2 linked regions of the Homo sapiens genome follow. The protein of the gene in region 2 purifies or fractionates together with the protein of the main gene of each other region. This does not show direct contact. Each region holds a gene or a part of one and is shown on either strand. Other genes may lie near its edges. The genes, in order: RNF10 and GON4L.

The links.
Region 1: the proteins of GON4L (region 2) and RNF10 purify together in Homo sapiens (co-immunoprecipitation; one large-scale study listed by IntAct). This does not show direct contact.

The regions. Positions count from the first base shown.
Region 1 is NC_000012.12:120,554,619-120,558,645, forward strand, and holds part of RNF10 (E3 ubiquitin-protein ligase RNF10), read left to right. Parts: intron 1-99; coding exon 100-190; intron 191-2,663; coding exon 2,664-2,848; intron 2,849-2,927; coding exon 2,928-3,064; intron 3,065-4,027. UniProt on the Homo sapiens protein: E3 ubiquitin-protein ligase that catalyzes monoubiquitination of 40S ribosomal proteins RPS2/us5 and RPS3/us3 in response to ribosome stalling.
Region 2 is NC_000001.11:155,759,715-155,763,214, forward strand, and holds part of GON4L (GON-4-like protein), read right to left. Parts: intron 2,661-3,500; coding exon 2,476-2,660; intron 928-2,475; coding exon 730-927; intron 1-729. UniProt on the Homo sapiens protein: Has transcriptional repressor activity, probably as part of a complex with YY1, SIN3A and HDAC1. Required for B cell lymphopoiesis.

The sequences.
Region 1 (4,027 bases), on a different chromosome or scaffold from region 2:
GCCTGCATTTGATTTCTAAGTGAATAGATGACAATTTCTGCTGAGGGTTTATTGGTAGATCCTGACAGTCTAGCTTTTTCCTGTCTTTCCTATTTCTAGCTGCCAATTTGTGGTGTCTGAAGACCAAGACTACACAGCTCATTTTGCTGATCCTGATACATTAGTTAACTGGGACTTTGTGGAACAAGTGGTGAGTAGCTCAGCCAAGCCCATAAGCTATGAATGGGAGCACTAAATAAAGGCACTGTGGTGACGCAGCAGCTGTTGGCTGTGTGCACTGCTTGATACCCTTTTCTGCCTGGCCTTTCTATAGATGTTTCCCAGAGGTCAGTTCCTGGTTCTTCCTGGAGTCCATTTTGTGACTAATTGGCTCTGGCCTGTAGGGATGGTGTATGAAAGGCTCTGATCTGAAGATGTGTAAGCTGGGAAGTAGTAACCCCTTACCCTCCTGATCTGGGTTGGGCTCATTACAGGGCCATTGCTTCATTGGCAGCCATTCGTAGCAATCACTATCAAAGTAGGCCTCAGCCTTGTGGCAGGGAGGCACATGAATGAGCCACACAGTTGTACTTTTCTTTTTTGAGAAAGAGTCTCACTCTGTTGCCCAGGCTGGAGTACAGTGGTGTGATCTTGGCTCACTGCAACCTCTGCCTCCAGGGTTCAAGCAATTCTCATGCCTCAGCCTCCTGAGTAGCTGGGATTACAGGCACCCGCCACCACGCCTGGCTAATTTTTGTATTTTTAGTAGAGACGGGGTTTCACCTTGTTGGCCAGGCTGTTTTTGAACTCCTGACTGCAAGTGATCCACCCACCTTGGCCTCCCAAAGTGTTGGGGTTACAGGCGTGAGCCACTCTATCTGGCCCAGTTGTACTTTTTTTTTTTTTTGAGACGGAGTTTCGCTCTTGTTGCCCAGGCTGGAGTACAGTGGTGCAATCTTGGCTCACTGCAACCTCTGCCTGCCAGGTTCAAGCGATTCTCCTGCCTCAGCCTCCCGAGTAACTGGGACTACAGGCACGCACCACCACTCCCAGCTAATTTTTTTTTGTATTTTTTTTTAGTAGAGATGGGGTTTCTCCATGTTGGTCAGGCTGGTCTTGAATTCCTGACCTCAGGTGATCCTCCCGACTTGGCCTCCCAAAGTGGTGGGATTACAGGCATGAGCCATCGTACCTGGCCTCTTTTTTTTTTTGAGACAGTCTTGCTCTGTCGCCCCAGCTGGAGTGCAGTGGCGCGATGTTGGCTCACTGTAACCTCCACCTCTTGGGTTCAAGCAATTCTCATGCCTCAGCCTCCTGAGTAGCTGGGATTACAGGCGTGCACCACTATGCCTGGCTAATTTTTGTATTTTCATTAGAGACGGGGTTCCACCGTGTTGTCCAGGCTTGTCTCAAACTCCCAGCTTCAAGTGATCAACCTGTCTCGGCCTCCCAAAGTGTTGGGATTACAGGCGTGAGCCACCACGCCCAGCTTCAGTTGCACTTTCAAAGCCACTGATGTGTTTTCTACTGAAGTTATAAACTCTAGGTATCCCCTTGTTGGTCCTAGTAGGGTATCTGTTGAAGAATAATAATTTCAAAATGATGGGCACTTTTTCTTTATGAGCAGGGGCTTTTGACCTTAAAGCTTGAACTCTCGCCGGGCGCGGTGGCTCACGCCTATAATCCCAGCACTTTGGGAGGCTGAGGCGGGCGGATCACGGGGTCAGGAGATCGAGACCATCCTGGCTAACACGGTGAAACCCCGTCTCTACTAAAAAAAAAAATTAGCCCGGCGCAGTGGCGGGTACCTGTAGTCACAGCTACTTGGGAGGCTGAGGCAGGAGAATGGCGTGAACCCGGGAGATGGAGCTTGCAGTGAGCCGAGATGGCGCCACTGCACTCCAGCCTGGGTGACAGAGTGAGACTCCGTCTCAAAAAAAAAAAAAAAAAAAAAAAAAAAGCTTGAACTCTCACTACTGTGAAAATGTATAAAATCATCTGAGAATGACATAGCATAAAAACTTAAGTTTTATTAAAAAAAAATGAAGTCTTTTTAATGCGTTCTTTGTTGGAAGTTACTGGTAGATTACTTCTAGACCCTTTTTAGGCCTTTATGCATACATATTAAGTTTTTTTATAAATGGGAATATAGTGATTTGTCACTTTTTTCTATTTAATGTAGAACCCCCAACATACCTGTTGTGTATTAGTTTTATTATATTTAACGGTTATTATGGTTTCCTTGATGCTTTGCTTAAAGAGCTATCATACAAAGCCAGGCGCGGTGGCTCACGCCGGTAATTCCAGGACTTTGGGAGGCCGAGGCGGGCGGATCACAAGGTCAGGAGATCAAGACCATCCTGGCTAACACAGTGAAACCCCGTCTCTACTAAAAAATTAGCTGAGCGTGGTGGCAGGCGCCTGTAGTCCCAGCTACTCCAGAGGCTGAGGCAGGAGAATGGCGTGAACCAAGGAGATGGACCGTCTCAAAAAAAAAAAAAAAAGAAAAAAATGATCATACATGTACCTACGTTGTAAACAATTTTAGAAAGATATGTTGAGTATAAGGATGTACGGGGATAGAGATGAGAGAGATGCGGATGAGAGAGTAGAGAGGCCTAAAACTTTGACAGTCCCTAATCAGTTCTTCAAGCAGTGAACCTTCTGGTGGCATTTTGTTTCAGCGCATTTGTAGCCATGAAGTGCCATCTTGCCCAATATGCCTCTATCCACCTACTGCAGCCAAGATAACCCGTTGTGGACACATCTTCTGCTGGGCATGCATCCTGCACTATCTTTCACTGAGTGAGAAGACGTGGAGTAAATGTCCCATCTGTTACAGTTCTGTGCATAAGAAGGATCTCAAGAGGTGAGATTGAGACATTTACTCAGTTAGATCCCAATCTCTTCACTCCTTGCCCTGCTACATATGAGTGTCCATGTTTCAGTGTTGTTGCCACAGAGTCACATCAGTATGTTGTTGGTGATACCATTACGATGCAGCTGATGAAGAGGGAGAAAGGGGTGTTGGTGGCTTTGCCCAAATCCAAATGGATGAATGTAGACCATCCCATTCATCTAGGAGGTGAGTTCTTTAAATTTTGGGGACAAATAATCCTGGGTACATTCTTTAAGGTGATTGAATATATCTAAGCATCAGAAAGTGAAGCCTTTGGGCAGGGCACATCTGGCATGTTCATATTAGTCATAGGATTCCAGTAGGTTAGGGTGGGGTTTGTAGAGAGTAGATTAATTATTGGTTTCAAGTTTGTTTAATCTATACATCCTAATTTTTCATTTTACAAGGTTTTATTACATAGTGTCTTTCACTGTGCCCAATCTTAGAGGTTCTGTGGTCAGCCAGTCTTGGTGCCTGTCGTCAAGAAACTCAGTAGTCCGATAGAAGAGACAGACTGGTAGACTGGCCATTAGGATAAAGAGTGTGATAAGTGCTCACAATGAATGCCAGAGATGTATTCCCTGTGTTTCATGCAGAAATGAGCATTTGATTAAAATAGCATTTCAGTCTCTGGGGAAAAGATAGATTTCTCAATAAATGGTATTGAAACAATTGATTCTCCCTAAGGAAAAAATAAAATTAGATTCCTATTTCATACCATTCATGAAATTAATTCCAGATAGATTGAAGAAGTAAATGTAAAAAATCCAAAAGTTTTAACCTTTTTATTTAAAAGAAAATATAGGACAATTTCTTTATAAATCCTCAGATGTGCATCTGTCTGAAGGATTGTGTGTTCTCATTTGGGTGGTAAATGTGTGTGTGTAATATTTTTTTCCTAGTGATTTTGACTGTTTAAATGTTTAGCAACTTAAAACATTAAAAATGTGTATTAATTAAAAAAAAATCCTCAGATATGGGTGGATTTTTGAACCAGGCTGAAATGATAGATGCTGTAAAAGACTGATAAATTTTATTTTTATTTTATTTATAGATATATAATATAATATGTATATATATATTTTTTTTTGAGACAGAGTCTGGCTCTGTCACCCAGGCTGGAGTGCAGTGGCATGATCTTGGCTCACT
Region 2 (3,500 bases):
CGTTCCTCCCTTTGTTCCTATTTTTATGACGATAAGTCCAGGACTACTGGGATATCCCTCATGTTTAGCCTCCTATTCTGCAACATTTCACGTTACCATACCACAGTGGCCTTCCCAGACCGCTGTGTATAAAACCACCCCTCTAGTTTCCTTTCCTGCTTTATTTTTCTGTAAAACATGATCACTATAAAACATTGTATACTATATATTTTGCTGTTTATATTTATTTTTATAATTTATATTTTATATATTATATATATATATATATGATATATATATATATATGTTTTCTGGAGTATCATCTGAATTTCCTCATGATAACGTAAGCTCCACGAGGGCAGGAATTTTAGTCTTTTGTAATTACTATATTCCTAGCAATTGAGGTCAGGAATTGCTAGGAATTCCTGACAGTTAGGAGGCACCTAACAAATATTTGTTAAATGAATGTCTGGCTTGATACCAGTGAGAAGCAGAGAGCATATGACTCACCTAAGGTGTCCTTTGGCAACTATAGGTAAAACCCTCTCATTTATCATGTAAAGAAAATGGGAGAATGGGATTGGAAAGATAATACCCTGAAAAGACAGAGGCTTTTATCACTCTGGGCTAGGGGATGGCTGTGTGTCTGGAAGGAGCTGGGAGACTGAAAGAGTCTTATTCAACCCCATTCAATCCCAGTCTCACTCTGACCCAGGAGTCCCAGTGTACTTTTTTTCCCCATTCACTTACTAATCCACAGGCCAGAGCTTGCTCAGGTAACAGGAAAGCAGCAAAGTCTTTCAACAGCTGAGGCCAGTCTTGGAGCAGAATTTGCAGGCTTTTGTAGAGATCTACAGCCGTCCGTCTCTGGGTACTTGACTCAAATTCATAGATGACTTGAAGGAAGTCTTCATACTTGCCAGGGATATGTTGTAGGGCTTCTCGCACCTACACGGGAAGACTTTCAATCATCAACACCCTTTATTTGGGCCACAACAAGCAATAAGGGTACAAGGGAGAAGGCAGGGTTATGGTTAGAGAGCTCCAAGAATTATCCATCAGAGGCTGTGCCTCCAACAGATCTTAACATCTGACTGTTAATGGAAGACACAGAGCAATAGGCAAGGTAAAGATCTTTTTCTGGGAGTGAGCAAGTGAAAAATCATCTTCCACGTTCCACAGTTCTACCCACAAAACCAAGCAATGCTTTTCTCTAGGTCACAGCCCTAACCTTTCCTTACTGATTACAGCCCCATAATGAAATAGGTAACATGTGTTTGTACATGTATTTCAGCATGGGCGTAATTTGAGAGTAAATAATACATAAGTTAGGAATGTCAGTAAAACATTAGGAGATAAGAAAAAGCTATGACTATCATTGCCAGTATTCTGCTTTCCAGGGGGATAAAGGAATCAGGTGGTTACCAAGAGAAGGACACAGTTCTCCAGGACACTACCAAGAAGTGGTTAGCTTATGTGTGGTTTTTTTTTTTTTTTTTTTTTTTGAGACAGGGTCTCATTCTGTTGCCCAGGATGGAGTGCACTGATGCAATCATGGCTCACTGCAGTCTCAACCACCTGGGCCCAAGTGATCCTCCCACCTCAGACTCCCAAAGTACCTAGGACCACAGGCATGCACCACCATGCTTAGCTCACTATTTTTTTTTTATTTTTGTAGAGATGGAGGTCTCCTGTGTTGCCCAGGCTTGTCTTGTCTTGAACTCCTGGACTCAAGGATCCTCCTACCCCAGCCTCCCAAAGTGCTGGCATTATATGCAAGGGCCACAGCGCCCAGCCTGGTTCATTTTTTTTTTTTTTTTGAGACAGAGTGTCGCCCTGTCACCAAGGCTGGAGTGCAGTGGTGCGATCTCGGCTCACTGCAAACTCCGTCTCCCAGGTTCAAGTGATTCTTGTGCCTCAGCCTCCCCCGTAGCTAGGATTACAGGCGCCCACCACCACACCCGGCTAATTTTTGTATTTTAGTAGAGACAGGGTTTCACCATGTTGGTCAGGCTGGTCTCTAACTCCTGACCTCAGGTGATCCACCCACCTCGGCCTCCCAAAGTGCTGGGATTATAGGTGTCAGCCACCACGCCCAGCTGGTTCATGTCTTAAGAGCAATGTATTTTCCTGAAATCCACTTGCTGGCCAGTGTACCCACTATCTTTCTTCTCAAGCCAAAGGTTCTATAAAGGTCCTTATCAGCGCACCCAGTAAAGTCACAACCTCCCACTGATGATGGTGGTATCATCTTTCTGCCAATCTCTGGTCAACAGAAGGATGATGGCAGGGTACTAACAATAAACATACTTATGATTGAATTCTATGTCTCCTTGTGGTTCTGTCACAGAGATCTTTTGCCAGAAAAGCCAAGATAGAGGAATATGAAGCCTGTTGCATAGCCTGAAAAACAGACTTTATGTTGAAAAACATCTCCCTTGAAGAAGCAGCCACATTCATAGAGACTGGCAATAACAGGAAGCAGCATTTGCCTACCCTGGTCAGATAAGCTTGGGCAAAGGCCAAGTCCTTCTGCTCCCTGAGTGGATCTCGCTCGAGAATGTCCTCATCATACAGCAACAGCAGCTTGGAGGTGTCCTTGCTGGCCCGAGCCCGACTTCCCCGCTTGTTGCGAGCTCGATGATTGTTCCGGCCTTTTCCAGCAGCTTTGATGCTCTCTCCTTGTAGCACACATGAAAAGGATTGTTTCCCTGTCCCTGCAACCTGTGTTCTTCCCATTCCACCACATGCACCACCCCAGCCAAATCCTATTCAATATTATGGAGCAATTCAAGGAAAAGGTTTTTGGGAAAATGGTATGAGAACTAAGTCCGTCAAGTCAGTTCTACGCAGAGTCTGCAGTGTAACTGCCTTAATTGGGATGACAACAAGATAATCAGCTACTTCATATTGAGAAAGGAAGTCTAAAGAGCAAGTGTGGCTTCTGTAGTGCTTTTGAGAGACTATGTCTTGATGAGGAACAAGCAGTGTTTTCTGAAATAAACATGGGTCTTAGCCCCACACATGACAGATAAGGTAACAATCAGTTTAACAAAGTGAACTGCCAGGCACAGTGGCTCACGCCTGTAATCCCAGCACTCTGGGAGGCCGAGGCGGGTGGATCATAAGGTTAGGAGTTCGATACCAGCCTGACCAACATGGTAAAACCCCATCTCTACTAAAAATACAAAAATTAGCTGGGTGTGGGGGCAGATGCCTGTAATCCCAGCTACTCAGGAGGGTGAGGCAGGAGAATCGCTTGAACCTGGGAGGCAGAGGTTGCAGTGAGCCAAGATCGCACCACTGCACTCCAGCCTGGGCGACAGAGCAAGACTCCGTCTCAAAAAAAAAATAAAAAAATAAAAAAAAGAAAGAAAGTGAACGAAGCTAATATAAATCTAGCAACGGATGAGAATTGAATTAAAAATTTCTGAGTATCTGTTCTCCACAAAGATACCACATTAAACATGTTTTGGGGGAGGGGTGTTGCAGAAGAGATCCAGAGGGTTTCCTCTGGAAAT